Linked DNA regions of Homo sapiens: region 1 is linked to region 2. A link means that fine-mapping ties the variant in region 2 to the expression of a gene that starts in the linked region. Tissue or cell type: iPS cells. Region 2 holds a variant in brackets; the other region holds the start of a gene. All regions are shown on one strand. Distances are between the middles of the regions.

Region 1 (4,269 bases), 150 kb after region 2:
CTACTTTTAGGATCACTTGACTCTAGAGATTCTCAAGTCAGCCTATTTCAGGTCATGATCGTCTGTCTGTTCACTGTTGACTCTCACCTGCACTTCGCCACCAGCCTCCTAGCTGGTCTCCCTGCTTCCACCCTTGCCTGCATTACAGGACATTCTCACACAGCCGCTGGTCAGTCTTCTTCTTGGAGGATTAACAGTAATCCCCAGGCTGTAATCCTCCAGTGGTTTCCCATCTCAACTAAAGTCCATATTCTTTGTCAATGCTCACTACGTGTACAAGGCCTTAGCCCATCATATTCATTTCACTCTGCTGCAGCCACCTTTGTGTCTTTCTGTCCTTTTCCCAAAACAAGTTTGTTCCCATTTCAGGAATTCCAAAGAAGAAATTCCTCTCTGGAAGCCCTCTCCCATCATCCTCACAAGGCTCCGCCTCACTTTTCAATTTATTTTAAAAAACAAATAAGATGGGATCTCTATGTCTATGAAGGTGGGGACCTTCCGTCTTATTTCAAAAAGAAAGGGACATAACAAGAACCAAGAGGCAAAAAACAGTCGTGAGAGTGTAGTCAGAGCTCCTCCTTCCACTACCAGCTACTGAAGGCTGCTGGCCCTGCCCAATGGCTAGTACCCACAAAGCCTCCTATGTCACCTGGTTACCAGGAAACAACCAAGTCAGGCTAGTGGCTCACAATGGCCGACCCCACAGACCCACCCAATGGCTCACACCTCCCTGCTGCTGCCCACCTTGTGGCCACCCTGTCCCTCTGTGGTGACTGCACTATTCGTCCTGGGCTGCCTGAGCTTTCCAGTCCTGAGAAAAGTGCAGGGGGGCGGGGGTTGTTATTGGAAGTCACCCTGGGCAATGAAATCAATAGAAAACCCTGGTTACTAAAGTCAGTTCCATTAGCATCTCTGTTTTTCTGAGTCTGGCAGCTTTCGTTTGCTCACCAAATGTAGTTATACACAAATTTCGGACTGCTTTGTAAGTAAATGCTTCTCTCCTGTCTTACAAGTGTTAGTTTTTGTCTTCAACTTGACCACAGCAACTCCTAGAGCCCTGGTCCCACTCTCGATAAAGCGTGATGACTGCGACTTGAATGAAACCCTAGGACACATCACACTTTCCCTTCCTTGTCTACAATATAGGGACTACACTGTAGTAGGGCTGAAGAGACACTCATGTCAAATTGGGAATTTTAAAGTAATCAGAGCTCCATGACTAAACTCTTTGGGTAAAACCAACACAAAAGCAATTTCTTTACAGCTCTGGCACTAACATTTCATACCTTTTGCAGTCATTTGAAGCATGTCCCCCAATTTTTTTTCCTTCTTTCTTCAAATTACAATTGGAAGAAGTAAAGCAGCTTCTGTCAATGTGACTTAAAACCATCTATTAAGAATACCATATAATCTCTTCCATGGCAAACTCTATTTTGAATTTAAGAAGTCTCCACATATTTGAGTCTAAATTATCCCAATTATTAGCTACCTTAAGGAATGGGAGAAAAGAAACAATTGGGCCCTTAACTGGCTCCTTCACTTAGGTACCAGACCAGCTGGATGGGTAAGGATAGAGAATGGGATGGGGACTCCAAAACTGGAGTATTTGAAATTTTACTGAGAAAAGGGCCGGGACTAGACCAAAAAGTCCTCAACAAAGAAGGCTCAACAACAAAGACAAGAGGCAGAACCAGCCTTTGTCCCCCATGCCTAGCCCTGGGAAAGCCGGCTATGGGCAGGAGGGAGCTGGAAGCTGAGGATGTCTCTGAGGGTGAGGGACTGCAAAGGGGTGGGGGCGGTGGTGGCCAGAGAGATGCCAGAGAGCAAATGGCACCCATGGCTTCTTTACCTTTGGACATCTTCAGCATCTTCGGCGTCTTCGGGAGGCTGAGGTACTGCATGAGTTGGGCCTTCTTAGCTTTCAAATCCAATTTGGCAGGCTTTGCAGTGGTGGATGCTGGTGCTGTGGCTGCCACAGTCTCAGGAATCTCACACTCATGGCAGGGTCCCACATCTGGCCTGCAGCAGTCACAGTTGAGGCCCCCGCTGGGGCCCAGGCAGCAAGTCAGTTTGCTCCCCATTGGGCACCTAAACACACAAAAAAGTCCAAGAGGCACAAGGACAGAATGTAGTCGGAGCTCCTCCTCCTTCTACGGCCAGCTACCGACTGAAGGCTGCTGGCCCTGGCCGTTGCCTAGTAACCACAAAACCTCCTATGTCACCTGGTTGCCAGGAAACAACCAAGTCAGGCTAGTGGCTCACAATGGCCGACCCCACAGACCCACCAAATGCCTCACAATGCCCATCCCTGCTGCTGCCCACCTTGTGGCCACCCTGTCCCTCTGTGGTGACTGCATTATTCATCCTGGGCTGCCTGAGCTTTCCAGTCCTGAGAAAAGTGCAGGGGTTGGAGGTTGTTATTGGAAGTCACCCTGGGCAATGAACTCAATAGAAAACCCTGGTTACTAAAGTCAGTTCCATTAGCATCTCTGTTTTTCTGAGTCTGGCAGCTTTCGTTTGCTCACCAAATGTAGTTATACACAAATTTCGGACTGCTTTGTAAGTAAATGCTTCTCTCCTGTCTTACAAGTGTTACTTTTTGTCTTCAACTTGACCACAGCAACTCCTAGAGCCCTGGTCCCACTCTCGATAAAGCGTGATGACTGCGACTTGAATGAAACCCTAGGACACATCACACTTTCCCTTCATTGTCTATAAAATAGGGACTGAACTCATCCTTCCCAGTTCTGAAATGCTAGGACCTACCAACTCTCTTTTCTCCCTCTGTTTCTTTCTTCCATGGCAGGGATATTCAGATATTTCTTTTACTAACAATGCATAAAGCACGTTTTTCTTACACAAAATTGAAAACCATATAGTGGGATACCACTGTCCTCATTTGATGAAGATGAACAGTAAATATCTGGCAAGCCTGACAGTATTCCAACAGTGGTATACTAATTTAACCCCCAGAAACCATTCCATTTTACGGATTTTGCAGAATCAATCTAGATGGAGAAGTTAAGTAGCTTCCCCAAGTTTCCATGACGGCTCAAGATGGGGCCAGAATTTAATCCTGAGTAATCTTGATCCCCACAAGCCGATCATGATTATCAGAAAGTAAAGGTAGACGTCATGCTTGGAGGGGAAGTGACCTTGTAGATTAGTATTTTTTTTAAAGAATAACAGTTTTTTGATGTGAATTTTAAAATGCCTCCCCTTCATTCAACATTAAGTCTAAGTGCCAATACTGCATGTGTGAAACAGTCCCAACCCTCAGTGAGTTCAGGCAGATGAGCAAACAAAGGCTTAGAGGGTTCAATTATCTGAGGCTACACTGCTGGACAGTGAATCAACCTGGAATGAAAATGCAGATCTATCTGACCCAAAATTAGATGCTGGGGTAGAGTTTGAATTTTATTCTGGAAACGAGAGTCACTGAACCACACAGGGGTGAGGAGTCTCTATCCGATGTGCTTGCAGTGACGTCACTCTGCGCAGTGGAGAGGGCTTTATGAAAGCAGTGGGGCTGATTAAGATACTCTATGTTCATCTGGAGAACAGTAAGGCTAAAAAGGCAGCAGCAGTGACTGAAGTGGAAGGAAAAGTTTTGTGATCATTTGGGAGATAGAACAGGAAGTGCTTGGTGATTAGACGTGGAAGAAGAGGGGAAGGAAAAACAGGCTGCTAAGGCCCTAGTTTGATGGACTGTGTAAATAGCAGTGATTCTCCCCTAGACAGAGAATGTAGGACGAGAAAGAGGTGTGGGGAATGAGACAGTTTTGAACTCTTTAAATGTCACATTGAAATGGAACCGTCTGGTTGAAAATTGGATGTAAACCTCTGTAGGCTAAGTCCATTCTGTGACATCCCAACTCATGTTTTCAAAAGTAACACACACACAGTAACTCAAACCATTAAGGAAATTTCCTAACATTTACATACTAAGAATATAATAGTTTTTTAGTGATTACTTTCTTAGGGAAACTTTGAATTTATGGTTGTAGCGAATGAGGTGTCACGTAAAATAAAACTGTTATATAAGAACAACATTTAAATTCTATTGTCATAACAGCATATAGAAAACAATTGAAGCCATGGGTAAGACCGTGACTGCTTTAAAAAGCTGTGTCTAATAAGGGGAGGGGTTGGAGAGAAAGGAGGCTTGGGGAATAGGGAAATGTATGTGGCATGAAGTAAAGCCTGCAAAAGTGAAAAGTGAGAGTCAGGGCACCTGAGTGTTCATCAGCAATGGCTGATCTGGTGAGA
Region 2 (4,269 bases):
GCTGTCTCAAACTCCTGTCCTCAATGATCTGCCCGCCTTGGCCTCCCAAAGTGCTGGGATTACAGGCATGAGCCACCGCACCCAGCTAGAATAACATTTTAAATGGATGAAAAAAAGGAACCACTAACTCAGATTTTTTTAAATAAAGATGGGGTCTCACTATGTTGCCCAGGCTGGTCTCAAACTCCTGGTCTCAAGCGATCCTCCTGCCTCAGCTTTCCAAAGTGCTGACATTACAGGCATAAGCCACCAGGCCCAGACAACCCACAATTTTATATCCAGTAAAAATATTATTCAGGAAGAAGGTGAAATAAATATATGCTCAAGCTACGGAAAAGTTACAGAAATTTGCCAACAGACAGATGCTTGGCTCACTGCAACCTCCTGGGTTCAAGTGGGTTCCGCCTCCTGGGTTCAAGTGATTCTCATGTCTCAGACTCTGAGTAGCTGGGATTACAGACGTGTGCCACCACACTCGGATAATTTTTTGTATTTTTAGTAGAAATGGGGTTTCGCCATATTGCTGGGATTACAGGCGTGACACCTGGACAACAGAGCAAGACTTCGTCTCAAAAAAATTGGTATATATGACTTTTGTATATATATAAAATATATATGTATATGTAAAATTATAAATTGTCTAGGGAGTTGCAATGTGTATATATTTAATGCAGATTACACCTATAACATAAAGGAAAGAGAGTAGATGAATCTATATGGAGGTAAGTTTTCTATCCTTTACTAAAATAAAACAGACTGTGAAAAGTATGGTATGTATATTATAATATCTAGAAAATTCAACATTAGCCAGGCGCGGTGGCTCACGCCTGTAATCCCAGCACATTGGGAGGCTGAGGCGGGGGGATCACCTGAGGTCAGGAGTTCGAGACCAGCCTGACCAACATGGAGAAACCCCCGTCTCTACTAAAAATACAAAATTTGCCAGGCGTGGTGGTACATGCCTGTAATCCCAGCTACTTGGGAGGCCGAGGCAGGAGAATCGCTTGAACCTGGGAGGCGGAGGTTGCGGTGAGCTGAGATCATGCCATTGCACTCCAGCCCGGGCAACAAGAGCGAAACTGTGTCTCAAAAAAAAAAAAAAAAAAAAAAAAATTCAACATAAAAAAGATGTCAATTCTCCCAAATTCAACATTACCTATAGATTTAATGCACTTCCTCCAACATTTTATATAGACAAAAATAACCTCATTCAAAAATTTATAGACACAGACCCTAGAATAGCTAAAACCAAACCAAACAAAAAACCAGTCTTAAAAGAGAACAAAGTGGGAAGAAACACTCTACCTGATATGAAGGCCTAACTATATAGCTAAGTAATCAAGGGAGTGTGGTACTGGCAGAGGTATAGTATAGAGATTAATGGAACATAACAGACAACCTGAAAATAGGCCCACATAAATATGCCCAATTGATTTTTGACAATGGTGCAAAAGGAGGAAAGATAGCCTTTTACACCTCTTCAACAGATGGTGCTGGAGGAAATAATAAGCTATTACAACAAGGTTACAGAATACAAGGTTAATATACAAAAGTCAATCACTTTCTTATATACCAGAAAACAAGTAAAATTTAAAATTAAACACATAATACCAATTTATATTAGCACCCCAAAATGAAATACTTAGGTATAAATCTAACAAATTATGTACCAAGAACTGTATGAGGAAAAGGACAAAACTCTGAAGAAAGAAGAACTAAATAAATAGAAAGACCCAATATTGTCAAGTTGTCCAATTCTTCTAAGCTTGATCTATAGATTCAATGCAATCTCAATCAAAACCCCAGCAAGTTATTTTGGGCTATCAAGAAACTGATTTTAAATTTTATATGCAGACAAAAAACCTATAATAGCCAACATAATATTGAAGATGAAGAGGACTGACACTATAAAGCCATAGTAAACAAAACAGTATAGTGTCATGTGCTTGCACTTATATGCATTTTTAAAGCACCAAAAACTGGGTGAACACAGTGGCTCATGCCTGTAATCCCAGCATTTTGGGAGGCC[A/G]AGGCAGGCAGATCACTTGAGGCCAGGAGTTCAAGACCAGCCTGGCCACTGTGGTGAAACTCTGTCTCTACTAAAAATACAAAAACTAGCTGGGCATGGCGTGCACCTGTAGTCCCAGCTACTAGGGAGGCTGAGGCATGAGAATTGCTTGAACCCGGGAGGCGGAGGTTGGAGTGAGCCAAGATAGTGCCACTGCACTCCAACCTGGGCAACAGAGTGAGACTCTATCTCCATAAATACATAAATAAAGCACCAAAAACTTTATCAATGTGTGTATGTGTTTTATGGATAGACAAAGACAGAAATAGAAGGTTCATGGGTGCAAACATATGTGGAAATGAAGTATAAAATGACCATAGGGATGATAACTGGTAACTTCAAGATGATAGTTACCTCCAGAGAGGGAGAAAGAAAGGTTCAAAAGCAGAATGTTAATTAAAGCTATACAGTGGAATTAATTGTTAAAAAGGGCAGAGATCTAAACTAAAACGCGCACACAAATAAGTACAATACAAGGAGTGTGATAATGTCAGAACAGATGAAAACAGAGACAAAGAGAGAGAATAATGGACCTGGGAAGTTCCAGGAAAATTTCTTGGAGGGGGCAGCTTGGAACTGAGCCTTGAAGGGTGGGTAGGATTTCTGAAGGCTGAAATTGAATGAGGGAGAGATGAGCAACGGCATAGAGATGTGAAGAGAGGCAATTGGAGAACACCAGGTCATACCAGCTAAGGTGAAGGTGGGAAGAAAAGGGGGTGAAGAGGTCCTCCCATGGGTCAGAGGAGTGTTACACTCTTTTTTGCTGGAAGGCTTCCCAGAAGGTATTATGAGCAACCTGAAGGCCAAGACTCAACTTTTCATGACCCCACTGCACATATAACAGTACTTTACATATACATATACCAAACATCATAAAAGGATTGAATGAAAGCAATGTCATCTAAGGGGAAAGAGGAGTTTAGGATTCCTAGAGTCTTGTAATAGAGTCTGATTGCAATAACCAGATTATTGCCTCTATTGTGCCTCTTTTAAAAAGAACTTAAAAGAGGGAACCTAGGGTGTAGCAGAAAAGTTGTGGAAAGTCCATACCTATAAAGTTAGGGTTAGGATTTTGAGCCCCGCCCTTTCTAGTGTAACACACTGCCATGATCTTAGAAGCACTGCAAGGAAACAAAATTACTTGTAACTGTTTGAAATCTCACAGAACTTGAAATAGGATAGTCAATTACATCATCTATTAAAATTGTGGGCCGGGCCCAAGGCTCCCAGCACCTTGGGAGGCTGAAGCGGGAGGATTGTTTGAACCCAGGAGTTCAAGGCCAGCCTGAGCAACATAGTGAGAACTCATCTCTACAAAAAATTTAAAAAAATGAGCCAGGTGTGGTGACATACACCTGTAGTCCTAGCTACTCGGGAGGCTGAGGTGGGAGGATCACTTGAGCTAGGGAAGTTGAGGCTGCAGTGAGCTGAAACCATGCCACTGCACAGCCTGGTTAGCGGAGTGAGACCCTGTCTCCAATCAACCAACCAACCAACCAACAAACAAAAACTAAAAAGAAAAAGAAGGCTGGGTGTGGTGGTTCATACCTGTAATCCCAGCACTTTGGGAGGCTGAAGCGGGTGGATCACCTGAGGTCGGGAGTTCGAGACCATCCTGACCAACATGGAGAAACCCCATCTCTACTAAAAAAAAAAAAAAATACAAAATTAGCCGGGCATGGTGGCATATGCCTGTAATCCCAGCTACTCGGGAGACTGAGGCAGGAGAATCACTTGAACCTGGCAGGTGGAGGTTGCAGTGAGTCGAGATTGTGCTATTGCACTCCAGCCTGGGCAACAAGAGTGAAACTCCATCTCAAAAAAAAAAAAAAAAGGAACTGCTTTTGTCATATCCTATAAATTTTGGTATGCTGTGTTTCCATTTGCATTTGCCTCAAAGTTTCCCCCTTTTTTTGAGCCATTGGTTGTTCAGAAACATATTATTTAATTTCCATGTGTTTGTGAATTTTCTGAAATTCTGTTATTGATTTCTAGTTTCATACCTCTCTGGCCAGAAAAGATACATATTTGATATGATTTCAATCTTCTTAAATTTGTTAAAACTTTTCTTATGACCTAGCATGTGCTCTATCCTGAAGAATGTTCTTTGTGCACTTCAGAAGAATGCGTATTCTATTGCGGTTGGGTGGAACGTTGTGTACATTTCTATTAGGTACTTTAGGTATACAGTGTTGTTCAAG

Alleles and levels. Positions count from the first base shown, and alleles are read on the strand shown. Sizes are in standard deviations (SD) of each study's normalised expression.
With allele G in place of A in region 2, the expression in iPS cells of the gene that starts at base 2,169 in region 1 is lower (moderate effect, 0.68 SD a copy in HipSci).

What was found. PIP is the estimated chance that this variant, and not a neighbour inherited with it, causes the effect. A credible set is the group of variants that fine-mapping cannot tell apart.
Region 1: it holds the start of C22orf42, and the variant in region 2 is the best candidate, but not a certain one, in a credible set for the expression of C22orf42 in iPS cells (HipSci, PIP 0.79).

What each region holds. Positions count from the first base shown.
Region 1 is chr22:32,157,135-32,161,403 of GRCh38, forward strand. It overlaps C22orf42 (chromosome 22 open reading frame 42), which reads right to left and starts at 2,169. Exons shown (of 9, transcript NM_001010859.3): 1 at 1,850-2,169. The coding sequence starts at 2,081.
Region 2 is chr22:32,007,562-32,011,830 of GRCh38, forward strand. The region is part of intron 4 of LINC02558 (long intergenic non-protein coding RNA 2558); the gene reads left to right. Among named protein-coding and RNA genes, the nearest start is that of SLC5A1, 34 kb to the right of the region's middle. The variant A/G (reference allele first, on the strand shown) is at 2,030.